4 separate regions of the Homo sapiens genome follow, and regions 1, 2 and 3 are each reported to be linked to region 4. Evidence: microRNA targets listed by miRTarBase, many of them from high-throughput screens and not tested one by one. Region 4 holds a microRNA gene; each other region holds the end of a gene's coding sequence.
What was found. Region 4 holds the annotated microRNA hsa-miR-6502-3p (UAGACCAUCUUUCUAGAGUAU, at 2,960-2,980, opposite strand). A microRNA usually pairs through its seed, bases 2 to 8, with sites in the 3' UTR of a target mRNA and lowers its output. Matches are read on the target gene's strand: a 7mer-m8 pairs with bases 2 to 8, a 7mer-A1 pairs with bases 2 to 7 and ends in A, and an 8mer does both.

Region 1: the mRNA of BICD2 is a reported target of hsa-miR-6502-3p. Seed matches in the 3' UTR shown: 7mer-A1 at 3,820-3,826.
Region 2: the mRNA of IFNE is a reported target of hsa-miR-6502-3p. The part of its 3' UTR that is shown has no 7-base or 8-base seed match.
Region 3: miRTarBase lists DRAXIN as a target of hsa-miR-6502-3p. Seed matches in the 3' UTR shown: 7mer-A1 at 2,727-2,733.

Annotation. Positions count from the first base shown.
Region 1 is chr9:92,709,220-92,716,339 of GRCh38, forward strand. It overlaps BICD2 (BICD cargo adaptor 2), which reads right to left. Exons shown (of 7, transcript NM_001003800.2): 7 at 2,144-6,244. The coding sequence ends at 5,935. Among named protein-coding and RNA genes, the nearest start is that of IPPK, 43 kb to the left of the region's middle.
Region 2 is chr9:21,474,623-21,481,725 of GRCh38, forward strand. It overlaps IFNE (interferon epsilon), which reads right to left. Exons shown (of 1, transcript NM_176891.5): 1 at 6,217-7,103. The coding sequence starts at 7,072. The coding sequence ends at 6,446. It overlaps MIR31HG (MIR31 host gene), which reads right to left. Exons shown (of 3, transcript NR_152879.1): 2 at 2,547-2,670. Among named protein-coding and RNA genes, the nearest start is that of IFNE, 4.1 kb to the right of the region's middle.
Region 3 is chr1:11,718,250-11,725,369 of GRCh38, forward strand. It overlaps DRAXIN (dorsal inhibitory axon guidance protein), which reads left to right. Exons shown (of 7, transcript NM_198545.4): 7 at 1,335-7,120. The coding sequence ends at 1,447. Among named protein-coding and RNA genes, the nearest start is that of AGTRAP, 14 kb to the right of the region's middle. RefSeq lists an enhancer at 1,495-1,564.
Region 4 is chr12:66,246,988-66,254,107 of GRCh38, reverse strand. MIR6502 (microRNA 6502) reads right to left here and starts at 3,026; the gene lies at 2,951-3,026. IRAK3 (interleukin 1 receptor associated kinase 3) reads right to left here. Exons shown (of 12, transcript NM_007199.3): 12 at 1-6,413. The coding sequence ends at 5,937.

The DNA of each region.
Region 1 (7,120 bases), not on the chromosome of region 4:
CAGGACTTCTGGGGGATATCCTCACTTGCCTTTCCTCTGAGTGCTGGCTACACAGTGTGACAGTATTTAGTTTGCAAAAATCCAGTTGGCCAGTGGACACTTTTATTTGCACTTTAATGTATGTGTGCTAAATTTCACAAAAACTTTGATGAAGCAAACCTGATGTGGCATGTCTGTTCTCCTAGGAGGCTTTGTGGGAAGAAGGCAGCCCAGTGACTCACCAGGACTAGCAGACACCCTATTAATTTGTGCTGATGAAGGATAAATACTCCCCAAAAAGCATACCTGAGGGTAGGGGTGGAGAACTTTGGGGTTACTAGTTACATAGCTGTGTTCACTGTGTGCAAATTTGGCCTGTATACTAGGATGTGCACACTTTCCTGGATGCAAATTACACTCTGTTAATAAGTTGGCTTAAAATTATATTCCCCAAAGGACAAAGACCTAGATACATGGCCTTGTGTCCAAAGCACTGGTGATGATGATGACAGTAAGAACCATATTAGCACCAATCATCAATTGAGTACCTGCTGCATGCTGGTACCAAGGGCTTGATGAAGCTTCACAACCACCTATACAAGAGGCACTATTTTGTCCCCACCTAACAGATAGGGAAGTTGAGGCTCAGAGAGCTAAGGCAGCCAGCTACCAAACGGTGGTGATTCAATCATCAGTCCGGCTCTCAAGTCCATGCTGTTGTTTCCAGCTCTAGTAATCTGCCGGGAAGTAGGGGTGAAAACACTGCGGGGAGATGGAAGATGCAGAAGAAATGCAGACCACCCTCTCCCAGAGGGAAGGCTGAGCAGAAGGCCTTTCAGCATGGACTGTCCCCCTCTGCAAGCTCCTGAGACCCCACCCACTCAAGAGGCTGCCGCTCCATCCTTGAAACTGAAGACTGTGTTCAAGGACCCAGAAGATGAGGATGGGGGAGGGCAGACTCAGTGTCTGGATACCTGTGCCAATCAAATACACCACCAGGCAGAAGTGAGCCAGGCCACACTGGGCCATGCACAAGTGTGGGAGTGGAAGGCACAGACACTGTCCCTGTAAAGAAGCCTGCCCCACAGGGCCCTGACGCTTTACACCTCCCTTCTCCTTGAGGTTCTTCTAGATCAGTTCAGGGCTTTCTTTTCAACCTTTTCCAGGAGTTGGACAACTGCCTCTTTTACTCCATCAGAAAGAATGGTTTAAACTGAAAACAAGTCCCAACAGCTGCTACTAAAGCAGAATAGTATCATCAAAGGCTGGAGGTTCTGCAGTGACAGTGAAACTAGGAAAGGTGGTATGGCAGTGAGACTGCAGTCAGATGGAGGGGTCCTGGGGAAGGGGCATGGCAGCAAGACCCTAGCCTGAGACGGCTTTCCAGAGGGAAGCCCTACATGAGTGAAGCCACACAGGCCTGACTGAGGCTGTCGGACTAGGAGGTGGCAGGAGTGTGTCCTGGTATTTACTGTCCCCTTGACTAGACACTGTCCCCTTTTCTCACACCCACAAGCAACCATATGAACGTGCCCACTGTATATTTGTACATATTCCTACAGACAAATGTGATTCCTGGGTTCAGAGAGTGAGAGTTTAGACAGCAAAGGATTCTACATCATCTGAATCCCTGCCTCCTCATCAGGATAGCATAGGCTACTCCTAGTTTTAGTCTATGTATACACAATGTGTTCTTACCAACATGCTGCTGTGGCTTCAAACCTGATGCTGCACTTCAGAAGACCCTTGAGGACAGAGTTATGAGGCGTCAGGGCCCTGGGGGGCAGGCATCTTTCCAGGGGGGGGCATTGTCTGTGCCCTCCACTCCACTCATGTGCGTGGCCCAGTGTGGCCTGGCTCACTTCTGCCTGGTGGTGTATTTGATTGGCACAAGCACCCAGACACCAACTCTACCCTTTCCCTACCCTCATCTTCTGGGTCCTTGAACACATTCTTGTTTCAGGGATGGAGTGACAGCCTCCCCACATATACATGACCCCTCCCCATTCTCCTGAAGGTGGACCCCAGGCTGCTTCCAGTTCCCACTACCAGGGTTACCTGATAGGCTTGTTGCTGTTGTTGTTTGAGGCAGTGGATTTATTGTGCCTTGCTTAAACCACAGTTATCTGGAGCACGGAGTCAGAACAACCACAGAGAACAAACATGTGCTTTGTCTTTTTATTATTCTTTATTGGTCCTACCAATGTGACTCTTTACCCAGGCCCACTGTTCCTATGCGCACTGGCTTTGTAGGCATTCACATCATATGTCTGTGTCCTGAAAATCTCAATTAATTTCTCCTTCCTATTCCTTTTCCATGCTCTGCCTCATTTTCTCAGAAATTGAAGGCATTTGATTATTATTTTTTTGTTTGGGTCTGTGTAAAGGTTCCTTGGCAGGAGAACATGCATATGACTTTAAAATAAAGACCAACATTCTGACACTAAGGTAATGCACAGAAAAAATACAGTACTCAGACATCATTGCAAATAAATACCCCATACAGATGAAGTTATCTCAAATGTAACAATATTTCTTATGAATCAACACTGTAACGGAAGGTAAAAATAGGAGTCCCTACAACTAGGAATAAGAAATGCTTATTCCAGGAAACAGAATTCTTTTATTTTTGTCATTTATATTATTATAATTTTTCCTTTTTTGGAGAAGGAAGGACAGTTTTTCTTCCTCCAAGAGTACCAATTTGACCACTCCCACTAACCTCACTCAGCAAACAAAACAGGATGTAGACCTGGTTTGCTAAGGAGTTTTAATGAGTTCTGTTTCCTGAAATTAACAGTGATTAGTTACACCAAGCAAGAGAAGATATAATGTCTCGCTTTCACATTTGCAAAGAATACTATGGCTAACCCTCATCCCCTACTGCGCATGCCAACACAGCGTCGGCCCTCCTGATACCCTCAGCTCTTCACAAACGTGGCGTTCATACAGCTTGCTCAGCTTGTCCCAGAAGGTCCATTTGGTTCCCAAAGCACACTCAAGGTTTTGTGTTTGCTTTCATTTTCTAAGCCCCTGAATTTGCAAGTAAAGAATCACTGACTAACAGAATTTTGCACAATGACTGTTTTCTTTCCCTCAATGAAGATGCCCAGGTCTGGGTGTGAGGAGCACCTGCCTCACCTGCTGTCCACGCTGGCCTTCAGCATGCCCACTAGCTCTTCCCTGCTCGCTTTTGAGAATGATCTGTGCTGGGACACCTCCCTTAACTGATGAAGGCACTACTGGCAATGATTACTAACAAAAAGGTGTTGAAAGAGAACACCCTAAAAATCGACGACTGTAGAATTTTCTAAGTGTACCACAATTTGGCACAACAACCAGAGTAACAAAACAATTCCAATTTGGAATTTTATTGGTACAGTTGTATAAAATTCTGTTAATCAGTCATGCTTCACAACGTCCTAAAACCCAGAAAATTCTGGAATTTGTAGGTAATACTACTCATTCAATAATTTATCTTTTTTTTTCAAGTGCCTATTACTGTTTTAACCAGAGCAAAGGTCAAGTTTTCTTCTTGTTACATTGAACTATTCCTAAGAATAATAATAATACAATATGAAAAACCCCAGAATCTGAATACCCTGGATTTCTTAATGAACATGGCATTTAAAATCTGTAATTTCAAACATGAACCACAATGCCGTATGATCTAAAGGCTGCTGAACCACAGCGTGGATACACTTAGCTGAGCTCCTCGCTGGGTCAAAGCACTCATCTCCGAGTCTAAAGCTACACGCTATGGAGCACACAGCTCTGCCTCGTGCTGACACCAGACAAACACGGTGGGAGCTGAGGCGGACAGCTACAGGACCACGAGCATAGACCACGGCACCTGAGACCGTCTCTACGCGAGGAATTAAGGAAGCAAATATAATATCAAAATATCAAAAGTGCACAGGTTGATCGGATAAAAAAAGAACATGTGTAACAAGGAGCCCCCGTGGTGGGCGTTTCCAGTGGGCTCCTGGCGAGCCTGGCAGCCAGGGAAGAAGGGTCTTCGGCCCATACAGAGGCCTTTCCACGCAGCAGCTCGCAGCATGCTCAACATTAAAGCTTTTTTTCCTCCCATTAAAAACCTGGGGAATGCTATTTTGAAAAGAATTGCAGTGGCATATCCAAAAAGTTTCTAAGTGGGCTTTTAGGTTGCCCTTCCTTCCTCCTTGTGGGCCACGAGAGGGAAGGGGAAGGGGCTGCAGTGTGACAGGGCCGGGTGGCCAAGTCCTCCTGGCAGCTACTCTACAGCTGAAAACGGGAGAAAAGAGAGCGTTAGAAAGCGGTCATCTGTCGCTTCCTGTTTATCTGACAATTGAAGCTCTCCACGTGCTGGGAGGGCGCGAGCACGTTAGTTGGCAGAAGAGAAGACCTGCATGTGTTAGCAGGGGTCCCAGTGGCTTGGGTGTCTGCAAAGTCCCTTAGGAGTATGGAGAGAAGCTATGTGCCAGGCTTGCAAGGAGAGGGCAAAGCGCATGCAGGGTGGGCATGCCAGCAGCCATCCCACTGCGAGTCTTGCTGGGGCAGGGGGATCTGGGCCCAGGATGAACACGCAGGGGACATACATGGGCGTGTCCTGGAGTCTGGAGGGGACCGAAACATACTCGGCACCAAAGGGAAGAACGCGCAGGGCAGAGAGCTGTGGGAGGGGGCAACACGGTCTCTCACCAGGTAACTCGAATGCCTCTTCCGCATGAGAGACAAGGCAAGCAGCCTGCAGGAGAGAAGACTGCAGCCTCAGGTCCAGCTGGTCCCACAGGGTGATCGGGAAAAAAGTACTGAGAAAAGTTCTGCTCAGAATGTGGGAAGGCAGGTGTGGATGGAGCCTCTGGAAATGGGAGAACCCTACAGCTACCTTTCCTCTTTCTCTGTTGCCATCCCCCAGATTGCACTAAATAAAGAGACCTAAACATCTCCTACCTGTGAATCCTGACAAGTGGCCCTGGCCCTATGCAAAGCTTTCCCAGCACCGGGCTGGGCTCTGGATACACCTGTGGGTGTCCAACCCAGCCAAGCCCTTGGTGGCTCAGACTTCAGGCTAGGGTTTTCAAAGCCCCATGTCTTTGGGACTGAACCCCCTATGGAAGGCCGGATAATTGGCTGCTGGGGTCACCCCAAGTACAAAAGGACGGGCTCTGCACTAAGGACCAAGGTCTGGCCAGGCACTTGGAAAGCTTTTCTCATGAAAAATGAAAACCTGGGGCCTTGGGCCCTGCCAATCTGTCACCTCACAGGCCACTATACAAGCATCCTGATCTCAGAAATGAGAAACCGAGCTCTGGATTCCTGGGTTATGGTCAGCTGTGTCTGTGCCATGTGTGTCTGGCCAGCAGAATACAGGGGCTCAGGGCTGCTCTTCTCTGGGCTTGGGGAAGAAATTCTGCACTTCTTTCCTGAATATGATTTGCAGTCAGATACTGCATAAACTACAACGTACTCCTTTCCATGAAACTATGCCAAGTGCAAAGCCATCCTCTGAGGTCGTACCTATGCTGCAGGCTGGAACCTCCTAAAACTGCTTTCTAGTGCTGACATTAGACACATGCGAGGAACATGCAAGTCTCAACTCAGGTTCTGCCCCTTTTGGGTGCTGAGGGAGCAGGACCAGGACTCCTCCCTTGGGTTTCCCCACGGGTGCGCAGGGCTTAGAAGATGCTTTCATCACACATCTGCTGCAAGAATGTGCAGCTCTATCCCCACCTCTGACCCCCACCTAAGAGAGCAGCTGAGGACTGGGTGCTCCTGAGGGGGCTTTGAGGAGTGAGAAGCGACACAAAGCTCTCACAAGTGTCCTGCTGATGCAACGCCCCATGGCGCCTCGGCTAGACTCCTACCCTCTGTGCATTAGTCACGTTAAGATTGACCTAGCACCGCCGTCCCGCTGCTGCTGGGTTAGTTGAGGTGAAGCAGATGTTAGCTGCAGCGTGCGGCGCCCCACAGCCCCTAATCACAGTAAATGCTGTGCTTCTCGCTGCAGAACACCTGGTTGGCCAGCCCGGTGCCCTCGGCCCTGTCGCTGGCACAGGCACAGGTGTGACTTACGCTCGGTGTGGCTGGCTTGGTCTTCGGGGCGGCTTTGGCACGGCCACGCCGGGTCTGCTCATGGTCCAGCTCGAGCAGCTCCAGCCGCTGGGTCAGCGCCAGCTTCTGCTGGATGGCCATGCGCAGCAGCGAGTTCAGCGTCTTCTTCTCGTCCTCAGCAGCCGCCAGCTGCCGCTGCATCTCATCCAGCTGTGTAATGTACTCGTCACACCTGTGGGTACCAAAAACATGACTGAGGGGCGGGCAGAGCCGAGCAGAGGAGGGCAGGGCAGGGCAGGGCTAAGCTGCACGGCCCTCTGACAGCCCTATACCAGAGCCATCCTTCAATGTGGCCTCTGGACTGGAGGGTGTGGCTGGGGAAGAATTATTCTGGCTTATTTTAGCACAGGCTTTGCTTGGACAAATCCCTGATAAGGGTGAGAGGGAGGCTTGGGCCCAGGCAGGGCAGCCCTATGAGGCTGGCTTGAGTTTTGTGGTTTTGTGGGGGAGGGGCTGCTTTGCTCTTTCAGCTGCATGTAGTGCTTACAAACAGGCTATGCCCCTCAGCGACTGGGCTTCTTCTAGGAGGCGCTCTCCCCGCTTAAAGGCCTCGAGGTGGCCTGGGGCATCAAGACATGGAGAAGCCATGGCTTCTAGGGTGTGGATGTAAATCTAAGCAGGACTGGGCTTGTTCCCAAGGTCGATGCTTCGTCAGTCTGTGCTGAGCACTGACCAGAGCCAAGGAACCACGTGTGTGGACGCCATCAACAGCTTCATCCTGAAACCCGGGTGCGGAGCTGTGGGAGGGTGTGGTCTGTCCCTGGATGCCCTTCTTCCACATGTCCCATATGGGTGGGGCTTGGTAGAGACAAAGGGCGGGTTAAATCCCAGGGCTCCCAGGGCGGTGAGGCTGTGCAGGCACTGAGCACAGCCCCACCCTGCCCACACGCACCCTACTCTGCCTGTCCCCACCTGCCAGGAGCCGGCCCTTGGATAGCACCCTCTCCAAGGACTCTGCTGCCCACCCTTTTGAGGGCACACAGAGCTGTGATCCCTGCAGATTCAAAATCTTGGCTCCATCTGAAAAGTTTTTAAATAAAACAAATTT
Region 2 (7,103 bases), not on the chromosome of region 4:
TCTAATTTGAACCCATAATAAGAACCCACTTAGCCAGAGGCATTTCAGGTACATTTTTATTATTTTAGTTATTTCTGCTCCTGATCTCTATCCCATCCACAGAGTGTATTATCTTTCTTTTCCCCCTCTACTAGGCACAAATGGGTCCTTCAAAGTATGTCTCCTCAAATCCCACCATTGAGTCTGGAAATATGCTTATTTCTTTCCAATTTCATCTAGCCTCTTTCTCGGATACTCATTCCTCCGTCTAAAGTAATGAGAGTGGATTAGGAACTATTACTTTTTTAAAAAGATCTGATACACTGAATAATACACCAGCTAAGAATTCAATTCTCAGTGCTTTCAAAATAAATTCACTTTGATCCCAAATGTTTTCATACAGATTGGTAACTGCATTGTTCATCTTAGAGTTAATTACTTAGAGTAATTAAATTTTCTCCAAGGATCTATATTTTATTTTGTGTAAGGCTTATATTGAAACATAACTTGGAATAAATTTCACTAAAACAATGTATGCTTACCTCTCTTATGTAGACTAAAGTTACATGATTTATTAGTCAACGGAATCCTGTCCTTTGTTCTATTTAAACCTCACTTCATCCTTTCCAAGAGATAAACATCTCTACCTAAATTGACTGAACAGCTTTTCACACCTCTAAGAAACTGGATTCTTTTTGCATTGAAGGCAAAATTCATAGGACTGTTATTGTGTTATGGTCCCTTCCTGCATACTTACTACGTAACCCTAGCTACTTACCTCTAAACACTTACTACATGCTGGCTATCTTCTGCCTACTCATAATGCTTCATGTATAAAATCCAAAGAAATGAAGAAAATTGCCACCAAATCTTTATTAATAGCTAGTGGCCACCTATTTTGGACAACAAATGAGTGGCCTTTTGACTAGAATAATGGGAAGAGTGTTATATTTTATAAAATTGTAAAATTGAGCCATTTATGCCATTGGCATGTACTGTTCTAATATTTTCATAATTTAAGTTTTTTTAAAAAGCTGAGCAAAAAACAGATCCTTTTAGAACTGCTCAAGATGGTGCTAATGGTTTCTGTATTACCTGGCAGTTGAAGATATAACCAACCATCAACCCCGGCTGACTGGGAGGAAAGACACATCATAAGAGTGGGGTCGGCCCGGCACGGTGGCTCACACCTGTAATCTCAGCACTTTGGGAGGCTAAGGTGTGTGGATCACCTGAGGTCAGGAGTTCACGACCATCCTGGCTAACATGGTGAAACCCTGTCTCTACTAAAAATACAAAAATTAGCTGGGAGTGGTGACAGGCACCTGTAATCCCAGCTACACTGGAGGCTGACGCAGGAAATTCGCTTGAACCCAGGAGGCGGAGGTTGCAGTAAGCCATGATCATGCCATTGCACTCCAGCCTGGGCAACAAGAGTGAAACTCCGTCTCAAAAAAAAAAAAAAAAAAAAAAAAAAAAAAGTTCAGGAAAGCATTGTCTAAGATGATCAGAACCATTAGTTAGAAGAGAGGCTCCCATCTGGACTTCTGCCCTACACATTATGTTCTTATTTTATTGTGCCCTTGCTATATAAGTGTAAAACCCACCATTTCACTGGAAAAAGATAAATACTTCATTTTTCACTCTAAGAAGTAGCATATCTAAATGGTCCATCCAGGAATAATGGAGAGTCTCAAAAACAAACATCAGAACTTAACTTCTTAGCACACCACACAAACAAGAAAGGCTTCATTTCTAGACAGTCTCCTCATATGTCTAATTGGCCATGACAATATGGTACTGGTATCTCCCTTCTTTCCTTTAATGCTATATTTTAAAAAGTCTGCATTCATTCAATATTTAGAGTGTCCCTGTTAAATGTTGAATAATGTGCTAAAGAGTTAAGAAGCCATGTCCTTACTACAAAGTAGGTAATACTCTAGTTGGAAGAAAGAGAAGTAACCCATTACAGTACAATGAGGTCAGTGACATGGTAAGATTTGTGCTATGGGCAAGTAGCAAATAGGTTCAGACAAATCAGACTATAAAGGCTCTCCGTGAAGGGAAAAATTTTAAGTGAATCATGAATAACAGAAATGTTATTAACACATATAAGGGAAAGAATATGTAGCTAGCAAAAGAAACAGCTTATGAGCTTAGGTTTTCTGTGGCCCTAAATTGAAGCTCAGACAACAAATTCTGAGATGAGGATTCTTATGCAAGTTTATTGGAGAGAGCTATGGAATCACATTTGTGAGAAGAAAAGGCAGGACGATTAGGCAAAGGGGAAAGCTAACCTGCAGTGTAGTCACAAAATGGCCTTAGCCAATAACAGGAGGCTGGGAGGGTGGTCTGAAACTGGGAAGACTCTTCACAGGTGGAGTAAGGGGACTTCACACCCCCACGTAGACCAGTCATTGAATACAAGCAGACCCTAGGGAGGAGTAGAAAACTTGGGCTAAATGACTTTAGCCAAAGGCAATTCCACAAATGGCCCCCAACTCTATTTACCAAACATTTATACTTCTCTATAGAGGAGATCACTGGATAAGTTTGCCATTTTTCACCTTGGAATGAATCCTCTGTCCTCCAGAGTTTGGTTTTGTGTCCACAACACATTCTTTGTCCAATCAGCATTGCTATCGTGGAAGTTTTGATTTCACTCAACCACACGGTATGAGGACCAGAAACCTTAGAGAAAACAAAACAAAACAAAACTTGCTTTAGTCCATTTTCCTTAAAAGGCAGATATTGTCATGGGGTGCACCTAGGATATGACAGTTGCTACATACAGCTTCTTTAATAAGGAAAATGTCTGATTTGCTGCTGTGAAAAGGCAGTGATAGAAAAAAAATATATCTTCATCAACTAACTCCTATCTAGGGTGCTAACTTTTCTCCAGATGTCATAAGAAATATGAGATCAGTAGCCTTAAAAAAACTATGCCTTCATCTCTTAAAAACTTACCAAGGCTATCAAGAAGTAGGGGTACGGCTTACTACGTGTAGTCACAAGACCAGCAGCAACAGCATCATGTGAGAACTGTTAGAAATGGAATTACTCAGGCCATACCACAGACCTATTGAATCAGAAACAGTGGGATGGGACCATGCAATCAGGGTTTTAACAAATCCTCCAGGTGATTCTGATTCATGTTAGAGGTGGGACTTAACTTACAGCAGGTGCCCTTTACAAGAGTTGTTTTTAATTTTTAAAGTAGAGATGGGATCTCACCATGTTGCTTAGGCTGATCTCACACTCCTGGGCTCAAGCAATCTGCCTGCCTTGGCCTCCCGAAGTGCTGGGATTACAGGCATGAGCTACTGCACCCAGCCTGTTCTTTTTTTAAATTTCAAAAATATAATAATTTTTTTTTCCTGGTTCTAAAAGGAATCCTTATTCATGGGAGAAATATTTAATCCAAAAAGTTTAAGTGAATGTAAATTCTATCCCAAAGACAGTAGTACTATGAACATTTTCATGCATTTCTTTTCATATACTTTTCATGAATGTTTTATTTGTAGAAAATATGATGATGCTGTTATTATTTTGTAACCTGCTTTTGGATTTAATGATTTGTTTAGCTCAATACATATAGATGTAACAAAAATATAACTCAGCCTGCAAATACAAATGAACCTACCCATACTCCAAGCCTTTCCATGTGCTACTAAGCCAGGAGTCCAATCTTTTAATACGTCTCTCCTTCCCAATATTCCCAAGTTTAGAACTCTGGTTTTGGAGTTTTAAAAGGGCACACATATTTAGAAGTAACAATTTTTTATTTTGTGCTAGGCATTGAGGTGGTTATACAACAGGATATCAACTTAATAAACCTAAATGTTTGGGAAAACATTAGTATATAAAGTATTAGTTTAAACTTCTAAATATGAGTATTATTTTCTAAACGTTTCCATTTGACAGTTCCTCCATTCTGTTCTCAGTTCTTAAGGAAGCAATGTCAAGAGAAAGGAAAATATCTTTTCTTTAATTCAAGACTTCAGAGACCATTGTAAACTTGAATAAAGAAAGCTAGGAGAAAATTATTATTATTGTTATTATTATTTTGCAGTGATATTTCACAATGCTATTCAGGTTTGAGTTGTCAACAACACAGTGCAGGCTTTTGAGTCAGGCTGACTTGGGATAAGATCTTTGCTCTGGTATCTGCAAGCTCTGTGGCTTGCTACATTACTTTGAGCATGTTATTTCACCTTTACAGTCTTGTTCTCACTTGAGAAAAAAATAATTACAGAAGGCACTTGGTAAGGTCAATTTGAAAATTGGATAATGTGTTAAATGAAGGATTTGGTTCCAAAAACTTCCTGGTTTAAAGAACAACAAAAAATTTTCTAGACCATGAGAAGAAAAGTAACTTATATTTGCAGTTCCTTGTGGTATTTCTCCTTCCTCCACTTCACTACCTTTGTGTGAATTTGAAGGTAAACAGATCAACCCCTGGCTGCAATGTGAAGTCAGCAAAGACTTGCTTCTGATTGACAGCCTCTGCTTCCTTACCCTTCTTCACTATTGCAGGTGACTGTCTCACTTTCAGGATCCTATTCGGTTCCTACTCTTCCCTTTCAAACCAAGTCTAAAGTAGCAGCCATTACTCATTTGCATTAATTAAACTGAACTGGAGTATGCTTCGTTCCTAAGTTTTTACATTTACTACTAACTTTTACCTCCAATTATGCAATGCATCTGACGTAGAACATGACACATGGTAGTAGAACTAGCATCAGAGTTTTGGGCTGTGGCTCTGCTCCCTTACAGTGGACGAAAGTGGGATAGCCACCAAGCCTCAACTTTAGTTTCTCTGCCCCCACGTTGTTCCGTGGTGACTTCTGAGAGTTCCTGGCTAGAAGAGCTGGAATCCCTCCATCACTGGCATCTCCCAGGAGCAGGAACCCTCTCCCTTGGCACGGGTGTGCTTCTCTCCAGCCCTCCTCCAAGCAGACATCCCAACCAGGGGCAGGCTAATTCAGTCTCCTGTTCCTTTTGACCTTCACCAGCCAGACTCCCTCATGCATATTTCTGATAACTGTGACTCGTTAGATACATTTTAAATTATTATCTTAATATGTAATATTCACACAATTTAATATAAAAATTTTTAGAGGAGCTATAAAATCTCTCCCACCCTAATCTCCTTCTTCAGTCTTCCTTCTTCTCCTAAATACAGGTAATCATTGTAATTTATTTCTTATTCTTTATTTATACACAGTAAGGACAAACGTAAGTTTTATTTAACATTTTCACCCCAAATGTAGCATTTTATGTACACTGCTCTGTATCTTGCCTATTTTCAACTTTTTAAAAAGAAATACCGTCTCATTTGTTTCTCCAGCTGAATAGTGTTCCTTTATATGAATATGCCTCAACTGTCTCTAATTAGGAAAATCGAGATGGTTTCTTGACTTTTGGTATTACTAATAGTGCTGCAGAGAATAATATTGTTTGTAAGTTATTTCACACGTGGGCAAGTTTTTGTTGTTGTGGTTGTTGTTGTTTTGTTTTGTTTTGAGATAGAGTCTCACTCTGTTGCCCAGGCTGGAGTGCAGTGGCATGATCTCGGCTCACTGCAACCTCCACCTCCCAGGTTCAGGTGATTCTCTTGCCTCAGCCTTCCGAGTAGCTGGGACTACAGGTGCCCGCCACCATGCCCGGCTAATTTTTGTATTTTTAGTAGAGACAGGGTTTCACCATATTGGCCAGGCTGGTCTCGAACTCCTGACCTTGTGATCCACCCTCCTCAGCCTCCCAAAGTGCTAGGATTACAGGCCTGAGCCACCACGCCCAGCTGTGGGCAAGTATTTTTATAGGACACATTTCCAGGCCTAGAATTTATAGATGAAAGGCTACATGCATCTGTAATAGATATCACCTAATTGCCTCCATAGTGGTTGTACTATAAATGGCATGCATGCTATTTAATTTGTATTTCTATTATCATGAGTGAGATTGAACCTCTTTTAATGTAGTTTTTTTTCTCTGCAAACTGTTCATGTCCTTTCACCATATTTCTATTGTGTCTCCTGTAATGTAAATATTCACTGTGTAATAATATTTTCAAATCTTAAAATGCAAATTATTCCCAATATTTCTCATTGTCTCTAGCAATTTCTGGCAAATAAGCAAATCATTGCAATGGAGTTCTATGTTAAGGAAAGTATTTTTACATTAGTGGCATATTTTATTGTATCTACCCAGCCAGCCTGTATGAAAATACACCCATTTGAAGAATCAACCATATTAATGAATTTATTTTGACATACAAACAATTTAAAATGGATAGAATATATAAAGCCACATTACAAAATAAAAACAATTGTGGTCAATATGCACAATCTTAAAACACAGATAAATATATATATACACAAAATCAAAGCAATGTGATTGTACTATAAATTGTATTACCACTCTATGAAGAATCATGTCTGGAGAAGTCCTCTAGTCCCTCCACCTACCTCGGGCTTCTAAACTCTGTAGTAAGCTCTTGCTTCATGTCGTTCAAGGGTCTTCCTTGTTTGCTCAGTTTTTCTGTGAGACTGAACACAAAGAACAGACATCGGCTGATTTCTACTTGGACAATGGCCCAGGCACAGGTGCTGTAGTCCTGGTTTTCCAGGTAATCATGGATCCTTCGGAAGTACATTTTAACTTGTAATCTAAGGTTATCACTACCCAAAGTACCACTTAGCTTCTCTGCTTCCAGTCCCATGAGTGCTTCTAGGTATTCTAGCTGTTGATGAAGTTGAATGAGGAATTTCTCCGTGTGGTTTTCCTCCCAACCATCCAGAGAAATATTTGCCCTGAAGAGGCTGAAGATCTGCTGAAGCATCTCATGGAGAATGGCCAGAGTGTGTCCTTTTTGGTACTGCTGAGGACTCAAAGACTTCTGAGGAAGCAGAAAGTTTTTCCTGTGTGGTAGACACTGCTGAATTGACAAGGTTTGCAACTTATTCAAGAGTTTTAAACTTTCTTGATTCACTTGTCTTTGCTGGAAGATAATCAGTTTCAAATCTAGAGAGAAGATAGTGGTAGAGGCCAGCAGCACCAACACAGTTCCAAAGAAGTGCTTGATAATCATGGTGAAGGTCAAATATGCTACTTATCCCTGC
Region 3 (7,120 bases), not on the chromosome of region 4:
AGGTTTCATAAGCCAAGATGGTGCCGCTGCACTCCAGCCTGGGTGACAAGAGCAAAACTCCATCTCAAAAAAAAAAAAAAAAAAAGCAATGGCTCTCCATAGGATGTTTTACAGGGAAGGGCAGAATTTGAGCCACTTAAAAAAAAATTTAATAACCTTTTTCCTTTCCAATTTTCAAGATTATAGACTTTTTAATTGAATTTATCTGTGTATTTTATTTTTTAATTTTTTTGAGACAGAGTCTCACTCTGTTACCCAGGCTGAACTACAGTGGTGCAACCAAGGCGCACTGCAGCCTGGAACTCCTGGGCTCAAAGGATCCTCTCATGTTAGCCCCTCCTTCCTATAGTTGGGACTACAGGTGTATGCCACAATGCCTGGCTAATTTTTACATTTTTTGTAGAGATAGGGTCTCCCTATGTTGCTTAGGCTGGTCTGGAACTACTGGGCTCAAGCGATCCTCCCACCTCAGCCTCTCAAAGTGCTGGGATTACGGGTGTGAGCCACCGTACCCTGTGGACTTTATTTTTAGAGCAGTTTTCTAGAAAAATTTCACAGAATGTGGTTCTCATATACCTGCTTTGCCCCTGCATGCAGTTTCTCCTATTAATAACATCTTGCAATCATGTGGTAGATTTGTTTGTTTGTTTGTTTGTTTGTTTGTTTTCTGAGAGGGAGTCTAGCTCTGTCGCCCCAGCTGGAGTGCAGTGGCATGATCTTGGCTCACTGCAAGCTCCACCTCCCGGGTTCATGTGATTCTCCTGCCTCAGCCTCCCAAGTAACGGGGATTACAGGCACCCACCACCATGCCCGGGTAGTTTTTGTATTTTTTTAAGTAGAGACGGGGTTTCACCATGTTGGCCAGGCTGGTCTCAAACTCCTGACCTCAAGTGATCCACCTGCCTCGGCCTTACAAAGCGCTGGGATTATAGGCGTGAGCCACCGTGCCCGGCCTCTCTTGGTACATTTGTTGCTTGACAAACCAATAGTGATGTATTATTATTACTAACTGAAGTCAACGTAAGTTATAGTTCACTGTGCGGTGCATTCTGTGGGTTTTGACAAATGCATGCCATGTCCCACCATTACGTGTCACACAGAATATGTTCACCGCCCCGACCGCCCTGAGTCTTCTCTGTTCTCCTTCCGTGTTCATTCCTCCCCTCTTCCGGGTTCGTGTCTTTTAAGCTCATTGGGGCTGCCGTGAGGAAGCTGGGTTGTAGGGCAGAATAATGAAGGCAGGAGGGAGCTGGCTGGCCCCGAGCGTGCAGGGGAAGGAAGGGGAGGGCACGGGCCCTTCGCGCCTCTGACCCCCCTTGCCTCCACTCGCCCAGGGCTGCGCTGCTATGCCAAATTCCACCGGAACCGCAGGGTTACACGGAGGAAAGGGCGCTGTGTGGAGCCCGAGACGGCCAACGGCGACCAGGGATCCTTCATCAACGTCTAGCGGCCCCGCGGGACTGGGGACTGAGCCCAGGAGGTTTGCACAAGCCGGGCGATTTGTTTGTAACTAGCAGTGGGAGATCAAGTTGGGGAACAGATGGCTGAGGCTGCAGACTCAGGCCCAGGACACTCAACCCCAGGAGGGGAGCCGCTCGGCGAATGAGCTGGGTGGGTGCCCAGGAGCCGGCCCGCAGCACCTGCACACACGAAGTCCGGACCCACGCAGCCTCCATCCCGCGTGTCTTGCTCTCCGCGATGGCAATGCCGAGAGTGCCCTCTACTGTCCGACTCCAGCACTGCAACAGCTTCAAGTTCAAAACCAAGAGGCGTTTTTGAGAGTGGAAAAGAAATTTAAACTTCCCGAAAGAAGGTCCACCATCAGGAGATGAATATGGAACATCTCCTATGTACCAGGCACTGTGCTAAGTGCTGGAATACATTATCTCATTGAATTATCACAACGACCTTTTCAAGTAGGCATTATCACCATGCGACAGGTTGAGGACCGTGAGGCACGCTGGAGTTATTTGACTCGACTTGCCCAGGGTCCCAGGTCAGTGCTCCTCAAACCTGAACATGCTAAGAGTCACCTGGAGGTCCAGTTAAAAATGTACATCTGGCCGGGCGCGGCGGCTCACGCTTGTAATCCCAGCACTTTGGGAGGCCAAGGCGGGTGGCTCACCTGAGGTCAGGAGTTCGAGACCAGCCTGGCCAACATGGGGAAACCCCGTCTCTATTAAAAATACAAAAATTAGGCCAGGCGCGGTGGTGCACACCTGTAATCCCAGCTACTCGGAGGCTGAGGCACCAGAATCGCTTGAACTTGGGAGGCAGAGGTTGCAGTGAGCAGAGATCGTGCCACTGCACTCCAGCCTGGGGGACAAGAGTGAAACTCCATCTCAAAAAAAAAAAAAAAAAAAAGCACATCTGACTCAGTGGGCTCTGTGCTCTAACAAGCTCCCAGGGAACGCGAGGCTGCTGGCCCAGGGACCCACTGAGAGGTCCTGGGAAGTACATGGCAGAGCAAGGACATGAACCTGGGCCAAGGCTGTCCAGCTCCAAGGCCCACGTTCTTGCTGCTCCACAGCCAAGAATTTCTTCCAGATTCTCTAAGGCTTTTGGCAAGAGAGGCTCACACCCTGGTATTCCCTTCCTCTGTGGCTGGAATAACTTGACTGTTCTCTGCCTTCCCTGGATAAAGGTGTATCATGTTTAAAAACAAAACAAAATACAACTTAAGCACATACTTGCTTGCAGGAATAAGTTGGGCAGGTTGATCCCTGTGGTCTAGTAGCTGATATCCTGGGATAAGAAGTGTTTGGGGAAAAGAATCATGTTGGCCTTTATGTCCCTGTGGTCCTGATCATCCAGTCCTGGACAGGCACTTTACAGTTTTCTGGAGCACTTCCCCCCCAGGGGTTCTGATGCAAGCATGGAATCCAAAAAAACCCCACACATATTGCCCATGTTTACCCACTTTGCATACTGTTTAGTGATTTCCAGGACCACAAAACCATCCCTGGAACCCCACCCCACATTTTTGCAGCAGAGCCCACTGGGAAGTTGAGGCTCACCTGAAATTGAGGTGCTATCTGAAGCTAACTGCCCCTAACAGGCCAGACTCACAATGCCCACCCAGGACATCTGTCCCAGCAGATCTGGCTTCAGGGGTCACTTCAGGAGAACCATTTAAATCCCCCCACTTGGCATCTCACTCCTGGCCAACCCTCTGTTCCAGGGCGAACCAGGTTGCAAATGACAAAAGACTTTCCTGGCCAAATTCCTCACTGGCCTGGATCACGCCCATAAGATGCCAGAGATGTTTACTGCGTTGGAAAAATCAGTCGGGGTCAGGGGTCAGGCACCAAGGAAAGCAGGCAGATCTAGAAGAAATTAAATATGCTTGTTCTCTCCCTATCCAAGTTTGATGGGCATGGGAACCTTGTGGGGAGGGAGCAGGGAGGGCAGGGGAACTGGGAGATCAAAGCAGGCTAGCTGAAAGGCAGATATGGCTAGACACAATGGCTCATGCCTGTAATCCCAGCACTTTGGGAGGCTGAGGTGGGCGGACCACCTCAGGTCAGGAGTTTGAGACCAGCCTGGCCAACATGGCAAAACCCGGTCTCTACCAAATATACAAAAATTAAGGCTGGGCACGAGGGCTCATGTCTGACATCCCAGCACTCTGGGAGGCCGAGGTAGGCAGATCACTTGAAGTAAGGCGTTCGAGAACAGCCTGACCAACATGGTGAAACCCCATCTCTACTAAAAATACAAAAATTAGCCAGGCATGGTGGCAGGTGCCTGTAATCCCAGCTACTCAGGAGGCTCAGGCGGGAGAATCACTTGAACCCAGGAGGCGGAGGTTGCGGTGAGCCAAGATCACGCCATTGCACTCCAGCCTGGGCGACAGAGTGAGACTCCAAAAATATAAAACACTTAAAAATGTAAAAAGGCAGATCTGCCAGCAGCTTCGTACTTGAGACCAGACAACCCACACATGCTGTGTGTGCCTCACATTAAGTGGTGACTCGGGACTGTGCTGGCTCTGTGGGGCTAGAACCCTAAGGAGTACCGCCGGAAGAAAGCCCAGCATTACTATGGCTGGGGGACAGCTGTTAGATGGTCCTAGGACATCAGCCATGGAGAACACAGAGGGTCAGGACAAAGCTAAAATGCCCATAGAACTGCCACTGGTTGCCAGGGTAGTTCCATGGTTGGAAATTCAAGGCCCGTCTCTTTGCCCTAGCTATCTCTATTTGACATTTCCAAAGAGGGATGGGTGGATGGAACCTCTTAACTCCAGAGCTGGGAATCCCAAAGCCCTCTCAAGTGTCTAACCAACCTCTCTGCCAGGAAGTTCTTCCTTAGGTCTATCTTAAATTTATTTTGCTCATACAGAAGCCAGTTTCCTCTAATCCAGGGTTTAGCAAACTTTTACTGTGAGGAGCCAAATAAACATTTTAGGATTTGCAAGCCATCTGATCTCCACCAGCTACTCAGCTCTGCCGTAGCTCGAAGCAGCCACAGAGAGTGTGTAAATGAATTCATGGCTATGCTCCAGGAAAACTATTTCTGGACACACATGTGAATTCTGTATACTTTTCACATGTCACAAAATATTATTCTCTCTTTCCTTTTTTTTTTTTTTGGAGATGGAGTTTTGCTCTGCTGCCCAGGCTGGAATGCAGTGGCTCAGTCTCAGCTCACTGCAACCTCTTCATCCCAGGTTCAAGCAATTCTCCTGCCTCAGCCTCCCAAGTAGCTGTGACTACAGGCATGTGCCACCACACCTGGTTAATTTTTGTATTTTTAGTAGAGATAAGGTTTTACCATGTTGGCCAGGCTGGTCTCAAACTTCTGACCTCAGGTGATCCGCCCGCCTCAGCCTCCCAAAATGCTGGGATTACAGGTGTGAGCCACCGCACCTGGCCATAAAATATTATTAGTTTAATTTTCTAAAACCATTTAAAAGTGCAAAAACTGCTCTTTGCTTGCCAACTGCGCAAAACCAGGCAGTGGGGCAGATTTGGCCTGAGGGTCACGGTTTGCCAACCCCTGCTCAAGCCTGCTCACTCTCAACGCTGGCTGCACGTTGCAATAATCCAGGAACATTCACAGGCCTGGGGCCCACCCACAAAGCTTCTGTTTTGTTTGGTCTGGGCTTCATAGTTTTTCTCCCAGGTAACTTCAGGTGCAGCTGGGGCGGAGAGTCTCTGCTCTCCCCTTCCATCTGTAGCAGTGTGGCTGGTGTTAAATCCACCTATTCCACCTCTCACAGCTTTGGCAACCTTAGGAAAGTTTCTTAAGGTCTCTGTGCCTTGATTTTTTCATCTGTAAAATGGGAATAATAACTCTCCCTTCATAGGGTTGTTGTGAGTAGTGAATGCATACTTCTTTTTTTTTTTTTTTCTTTTGAGACAGAGTTTCACTCTTGTTGCCCAGGCTGGAGTGCAGTGGCACGATCTCGGCTCACTGCGACCTCTGCCTCCTGGGTACAAGTGATTCTCCCGCCTCAGCCTCTCGCGTACCTGGGATTATAGGCAAGCATCACCACGCCCGGTTACTGTTTGTATTTTTAGTAGAGATGGGGTTTCACCATGTTGGCCAGGCTGGTCTCAAACTCCTGACCTCAGGTGATCCCCCCGTCTCAGCCTCCCAAAGTGCTGGGATTACAGGCATGAGCCAGCATGCCTGGCCTGTGAACGCAGAATTCTTATAAGGTGTTTAGAACAGTGCCTAGCACCTAATAAACCTCCAGTGTTAGCTAATTTGTTATTCTAGGAGAATTTTAGATGTCGGTTCTTTGACAATGACCCATCACATACTCTGAGATCATTTCTAAGTCACCATTCAAGCTCCTTCCCCAAAGTGTGTTCCATAGAACACTGGGACCATGAGATGCTCTATTAGAAAGGGTCAGGGTACGGTTCCATGGTCAGAGAGGTTTGGAAAACTGTTCTGGCCTCAGCCCTTGGCAGCATGTGCAGATTCCAGGCACCGAGGCAGGGCTGGAGGAGTAAGTGGCTTTGCAATAAAATGGGTGCTGGAGTCTAAAATGATACCCTGGGTGGAGTGGGGGAGCTGAGCAGGAGGCCAGGTGGCAACCAGTAGCTGCTGGGCCCGTGGCCTGAACCCTCCTGCACTCCTCCAGCTGGAGTCTCACCGCGGATCCCAGGAATACCTGCTGTTCCCACAGGGCTGCCTTTCCGTAGTTTGTCTGGAGACACCAAGAGTGGTTTCCATGCCTGCTGGGAATAGGCTGAGCATGCAATGACATGAGGGCCAAGGCTTGTGGGAAAATGACAGCTTCACAGCCCCTTGAGGAGTGACCAAGCCACAAAGTAAATCCTAAAGCCACAACCCCTTCTACCACTGAGCTGCTGGAGGTGGGTCCTTATTTCAAGCCATATTCAACCCACCCAACAAAACCTAACATTGAGGTGGTGGGCACACGGCCCCTGCCGTGGGGCTCACTCTGCAGCTGGAGAGACAGCATACCTGAAACCTGCAAGGAACCGGTTTATAAAACAACAGAACAGCCAGGAAAATGGTGCTAGGAGAGACAGTGGAGAGGCCAGAGAAGCAAACCACTGTGGCTCCTCACTGGGGGTTTCACGGGGTTGGACTGAGCCCTGTCACCTCTGTGATAGTCTTCACTCTGACAGGCAATGGTGACTGTGTGTGTTTCCTGGGGAGGAGGTTAGCAGGGACGGTTGCCTTTCCTGGGAAGGGCAGTTTGCAGAACCAGGGGTTTATATTGCAGGGAGTGTATTTTCTGAATTCTAAGTCAGAACAAGCAGTCTGATACAGGATCCATGGCTGGGTCACTTCTGGGTGCAAGAGGCTTTCTAGACCTTAGACACTCAAGATTACGGTCCCGGGCCAGTAACAGCACCTGGGAGCTTGGTAGAAATGCAGAATCTTAGCCTAGGCAACATAGGGAGACCTCATCTCTGCAAAAAATAACAAAATTAGCCGGGCATGGTGGTGCACACCTGTAGTCCCAGCTATTCTCCAGGCTGAGGTGGGAGGATCGCTTGAGCCCAAGAGGTTGAGGCTGCAGTGAGCCATGATCGCACCACTGCACTCCAGCTTAGGCAATACAGCGAGACCTTGTCTCAAAAAAAGACAAAAAAAACAAAAAGAAATGTAGATTCTTGGGCCCCACCACCCC
Region 4 (7,120 bases):
GTTCTACCAATTTTCACTCCTGCCAGTATTGAACAAGAATTCCATTTTTGTCAATTGCTTTATCTTTGCCAATATGGGAGGACAAAATTAATAATAATAAAATAAAATAACACATCTTTATTAGCTGTTTTCATGTTCAAATAGAGGACACTTTTAATTTTTAAGTTATTCTTTTTCAAGGCAGATATTTCCTGGACTTGAATAAAGTGTTTTTGGTTTGTATTCTCATTCCATCAGTAGTATGACTTAGGGCAAGAGCCAACTCCTTTATGCTTCATTTTTTTAAATCTAATAGATCAAGGAAATGGAAACCGGCTCAATAGGTTGTTTAAAGCTTAAGAGATGTGTGAATGCACCTAGCACCTACTAGACACAACAATGAGCCTGCATTTCCGCAAGTAAGCCATTCCTACCTCCTTACCCCCCATTCCAATTAATGTTTGTCTATAAGAATATTTTAAAATTCAAGAGCCAATGTAAAACTCTGTAAATATTATCTTGCTATTTATAGAGACGACCAGAAAAGTTTGCAATGATGCAGATGACATCCATAATGAGTCTCTTAAATGAAGGTTTGGCAGGCAATACAGGTCTTTTGAATAAAAATGTCTCCCAGGAAAATACTTGCAAGTCAAGCCCACAGACCATCAAGTATATATAAATGATTTGGAACGGGAAGACAGATACAAAACACAACAAACATCAGTTTATTTCCTGCCAGAACACTGGTTTTTCATTGCTTAGACATGGTTTGGGAATATTTTCCACCATAGAGAAAATTTATAAGCAACACATACAACGACTAATCTTCTTTTCGAAGATATCTCAGATATTAGTATTTAAAATTAGTAGCTTTTATTCAAGAATGATGAAATGGAATAATTTAAGCAATGATTGATTATATTCTGAATACTAGAAAGATAAACTTCGGGTGCAATCTAGATGACAATCTTGATTCTGAAGATGCTTTGAAGGACTATTTGATTCATTCATTTTACAAATATTTGTTGAACCATATTATGCACCAGGTACTGTGCCAGCCATTAGGGATCCAAAAATGAGCAGGACATAGACCTTTCCCTCAGGGAACCTGCAGTTTTGTGGAAGAAGAAATATAATTTAACAGGCAACTCCAGTATCACGTGATAGTGACCTGAGGTTTGTGTAGGTGCCTCAGACCCCCGGAAGATGCCATCAGTATCCAAACAAATGCCCCAAAGAAACCACATACCAATAGAAGAATAGAATCTGTCACAATTGCCAGCCACAAAGCACACCATAAACTACTTAGTGCATATGAATAGCAAAGTGAGGTCCACCATGGGATTATCAGTTACACAACAGGACAAGGAGAAAACCTCTCTGAACCCATTTGGAAGAGCTGGCAGAGGAGCCAGGACCTATGACAGGAGAACCACCCTGAGATTTATTCACTTACATATAAGCTCCATGAGGGCAGTGAGCTTTGCTGGTTTCCATCTGCACTGTAGCCCCAGCTCCTAGAATAGTGCCTGATACAAAGGAAGCCATTGCTAAGTATTTATTCAATGAATGGAAGTTTGGATGGATGGATTCATTTAACTCATATCAAGTAACTGCAGTGGGTGCCTGTAGCAGAGAAGTTGTAGCAGAGGAGTAGGATAGTGATAAAGGCAGGAGACATGGTACCTACTAAAAATCTGTGGAATCAACAAATGACTTTTCACATCCATCCCTTTTCATAGGAGCTTGAACTGGCAGTGACTCCATTGTGCAATTTGGAACACAAGAAAAAGCATGGATTTTGAAGTCAGACAAATGTGAGTTCAAATCCTGGCTCCTCCAGATCTGGAAGGACCTGATGGGAGGACTGGGAGGACTTGATTTTAGCAAGTTAGTTTCCTGACTCAGTGTCCTCACCTTATTATAAGATGGGATCCACACCTTCAGGGTGACTCTAAGGGTTAACCAGAAAAAAACATGCAAAGCTCTAGACCCAGTTCCCTTCACCCTTACCCCATTTTTCTGGCATTAGGGATGGTTGTGCACAGCTGCTGTGGATCCCCAATTCCTTGAATAGCCATCCTGAGTGCTTCGTCAGTGCTCTTTTCTATTTCTCTTAATTCCGTATCTCTTTTCAGAAACCTTCTCCAAGAAGCCTTCTTCATCCTCTCAAAAATGCATAGTAATCTATTCCTTCTTCTCACCCTTTCAGCATTTACTTCGGTTGCATTGGTGTGTGGTTCAAATAACAGATGTCACTGAACTGTTGACTTGGGTAGATGCCCTGTCTTCCTTATTAAACTGTGTCTTACTTTGTACCTTAGTAGCTAATGCAGTGCTTTGATTCTAGCAGATGCTTAATAAATGCTACTCATGATAAACCTCACTTCCTGTACTCATCAGTCCTCAGGTCATTAAAGTTGTTTTACACAGGGTGATGTGCCACCCTATAAAACTACAATATTATGCAGTGAGTCACAGATCATTACAACTCCCAAGAAGTCAATAAAATTGATTATATCAGAAATCCCATACCTGTTTTTAAAAACAACAAAATGTTTTCTCCATGTGTTTGGGCATTATAAAATGGGACAAAAGCCTGAAGCTTAGTAAATAGGATCTGCCTGGAGGATTGCTCAGAGTGCATTACAAAAATGAGAGTAAATGAAATTATGAATTCATGTTTGCTGATCAGAGGGAACACCCGGAGACTCATTCTTGCTTTCTTATGTATCTTGGTCTCCACATCATGAAACTATAAAGGTATCCTCTTATTACCCATAGAAAGTTGCAACATTTAATTCATATCAACTAACGCTTATTAATACACCCACTAGAAGGCAAATCTAGTCAGGAAGACTGAATCACTCAACAGAAGATTTGGTACTTCCCAGCCACAGTGGCATCTGCTTACCACAACGTTAATCAGGTCACTGCCAGCTTATCTGACTTCATCTTTGAGGTGTCCAAAATAGTTATACTCTAGAAAGATGGTCTAGTCAATAAGATGATTGGTCAACAATCTTTCTAGAGCTCCCACTCTGTGCTAACCAACATCCTATGTAATAGGATGAATATAACAGAATGAAAAGAAAGGATCCTTTTCTCAAAAAACATACCAGTGATGGAAAGGTAGGATCTACCAATCTATAACAATTTAAGAGCACCTTAAGGCAGCGATTTTCACGGATGTGAAGAGCGGGCTTCACATCATTGGCATCAGCATCACCTGGGAACTCATTAGAAAGCAAAATTTCTAACCCCAGACCTATTGCATCAGAAGCTGGGTGGACCCAGCAATCTGCGTTTTTAACCAGCTTTCCAAGTCATTCTGATGCATACTACAGTTTGAGAAACCCTGCTTTAAGTCAGCTAAGCAAGTTCAAATCAACATAATACCCACAGATTATATGTGCGGAGTAACTGCATGGGCCTGGTGTTAATCAGAGCTTCCTTAATGACCCTTCATTGAATGTATTGGTGGGGGTCCATATTCTAAGTGAAAAACAGTTTAACACAGAGTCAATTCTTGATGATCTCTTTTGTGAATCAGAGAGCTCTGAGCAGCCAGATACCGTACAGAGCAGTGGTGGGCATGGGTTCTCCCAACTGCTTACCGAGGGCCTGTATAAAGCCTGTCAGTCAGACTAAGACTTACTGTGGTTTTAATCTCACTTCGTGCTTTTTTGGAAAATTGTAACTCCATGTTTCTGACCTTGGTCTGTTAATCTCACCCTGATTCCTGATGATTTTCTTCTTTGATTAGTTGTTCTTCAACATGGAATCTAATGTGAATATGATTAACCCAACCATACTGACTCACCAAAAAAATAAAATAAAACAAAAGACATGAGCCTATTCCTCTGCTGGACAAGAAACTAGAGGTTTACCCTTCTATTACAAGCTCCTTGGAGAGGAAAATTCAGTAAATCCTCTGAAAATGGTTTTCTTCAGTGTTTCTATCCATCATCATAAGGAGTCATTATCCTCCCTTTGTTAATTTATTCGGCAATGTTTATTATAGCTGAATTATTGATTATGTGGCTTCATAGGGGTAATTTAATTCAACTTAATTTATAAGGAAACACCTGCTCTGTGTAGGATGACACATTAGGCTCTGAAGAGATGGCCCTTACACACTCAGGGAGTATGACAGACAGAGTAATGGTCCCCCGAAGATGTCCACGTCCCAATTCCAGAAACCTGTGAATATGTTACTTTACACGAGAAAACGGACTTTGCAGGTGTAATTAAATTAAGGATCTGAGACACAGAGATTTTCCTGGCTTATATGAGTGGGCCCAGTGAAATCACAAAGGTCTTTATAAAAGACATGCAGAAGGGCCAGAATGAGAGGAAGAGGGTAGTGAAGAGATGCGGTGAGACAGACAGAGAGAGGGAGATCTGAAATGTCACGTTGCTGGCTTTGAAGACGGAGGAAGAGGCCATGAGCCAAAGAAGGCAGGTGGCCTCTAGAAGCTGGAAAAGGCAAGGCAGTGAGTTCTCCCCAACAGCCTCCAGAAAGAATGCTAAGGAATTCTGACCTCCAGAACTGCAAAATAATTAATTTATGTTACTTTAAGTCACTAAATTTGTGATAATGTGTTACAAAAACAATAGAAAACTAATATAGGGAGTTTACAACCTAGTAAAAGAGATGAAGGCTGGGCGCGGTGGCTCACGCCTGTAATCCCAGCACTTTGGGAGGCCAGGCAGGCGGATCATGAGGTCAGGAGATCGAGACCATCCTGCCTAACATGGTGAAACCCCGTCTCTACTAAAAATACAAAAAATTAGCCGGGCGTAGTGGCGGGCGCCTGTAGTCCCACCTTTACTCGGGAGGCTGAGGCAGGAGAATGGCGTGAACCCGGGAGGCAGACCTTGCGGTGAGCCGAGATTGTGCCACTGCACTCCAGCCTGGATGACAGAGCGAGACTCCGTCTCAAAAAAAAAAAGAGATAAGACAAGCAGCTTTGATATAATTCAGAAAGTGATAAATATAAAATAGAAATACAAAGAAATTGCTGTGGAAATACTGATAAAGGGAGTACTTCTGGTTGTAGAGATTAGGGAAGCTTCCAGGAGGTGGCTGTTTTGTAGAGCTCTGATGATTGGTAGGATTTCAAAAGAGGGAGATCCAAGAAACAGCAGGAATGAAGGCCCAGAGTTGAAAGGTGTAGATTAAACAAAAAGCTGACCTAGGCCCTTGACCAGCCATTTTCTCAGGAATAAAAATTACTTGATGGACATTTCACATAGTCTCCTTAAGATATAATAGGTCACTAAGTCTGTTTTTAAAAAGCTGTAATAATAGTCAATACAGGATAAACTGTCCTAAGAGTTTAGGATAGATCTTGGGAAGAAATCCCCTTTCAACCCAGAGCATGCCGTAGCTAAGGGTGAACCTGGCTCATTTTCAGACAAGCAGGCTAGTCAGGGATTAACCAAAAAACAAGAGGGGTCAATCAGAATAACAAGGTGATTCTTTCCAAAGGTATCTATTAACATTTACAAATTAGACATTTCCTACAACCCGTGCAAGCAAGCTAAACCAAACGATGGAATCCAACTGAATGTTCTTGGCAGATGGAGGCTCTGAGGACTCACACTGAGGATGATGGAGAGGACATTACAATCCAGTCCCTTTTTGGTAGGTTTTGATTGTTTTGTTTGGCTGAAGTCAGAACCCATGATCTTAAGGAATTTTGAATGGCTCTAATTGAGCGTGGATTTGGTCATGAGACAATTATCCTGATAAAACAATTTTTTAAGGCACTCTGTTTGAGGGTTTGGGAAAAAAGAAATGGAATTATCCAGATTGTTTATCTGCATCACCCAAACTCACTATTGATCATTCTCTTGGCATTGCTTATGGAGCCAATGTCTTCCCAAGGTCATACCTATGCTCAGGTGCCTATGCAATACTTGCTTTTTTCTTTATCTTCTGGTAGAATTTATTCTTTTTTGTACTGTTCATATTCATCCCAGGAAAATTTGGAGGAACAGCTGCTCTCCACTGGCCTGCTCCTGCAAGAATGCCCTGGAGCTTCTGAAGAAGGATCTATATTTACCTTATAGGGCCTTAAGTCCTGGGATGGAACTATATACTTTGGGAACCAACTTTCTTCACAAGAAGAACTGGGCATGTTGCAAGCTTCCTCATTTCTCTTGCTCTCTGGCTTTTTGTCCAAGCTCAGAAACATAACCTCAGACTGGCTGCATTCAAAAGGAGTTTTCTGAGTCATTCTGTCTATCCTCAGGCCTTCATCAGAAGGTAGTAAATTGTTATTCTGGCTTTCATCATCTTCCACTGGAATACTTGGTACATTCTCCAGGAATAGAGGAGAAGGACACCTGAAGGACTTTAGTGATGTGGGAGGATCTTCAGCAAAATACAAGCTGGCTTGAGTACTTTCAAGAGTATTTAAAACCTAATAACAAAGAAGCAAACAGACATTAAATTAAGTTTGAATAATCTTTCCTTTTACCTTTTATCACTCTACCTATAAAGAATATTCTTTCATTTTCATGAAATTAGTTCAGCTATAGAATTTTGAATTAGAAGGGATCTTAAAGATTAGCTAACGCCCTTTATTTTGAGGAGTAAATTAAGTGACTTAAAACCAGGTATAAAAGAAACTACACTAAAGTAAATACCAAGAGACCTGACTTAAGCCTCAGATTTGCCACCAACTAGCTTTGTGAACTTGGGCAAGTCTCTACATTTTTTACTTCAACCATAATATGTGGAAGATTGGAAGGGAATAAGGAAATGGTGGGCCCAACCTGTAATTCTTAAATGCCAGTTTTTTGTTGTTGTTCTTGTTTTGTTTGTTTGTTTGTTTTGTTTTTTTTTGAGATGGAGTCTCACTCTGTTGCCCAGGCTGTGGCGCAGTGGGATAATCTCGGCTAACTGCAACCTACGCCTCCCAGGTTCAGGCAATCCTCCTGCCTTAGCCTCCCAAGTAGCTGGTATTACAGGCACGTGCCACCATGCCCAGCTAATTTTTGTATTTTTAGTAGAGATGGGGTTTCGCCATGTTGGCCAGGCTGGTTTCAAACTCCTGACCTCAGCTGATCCACCCACCTCAGACTCTCAAAGTGCTGGGATTACAGTCGTGAGCCAGGGCCCCTGACT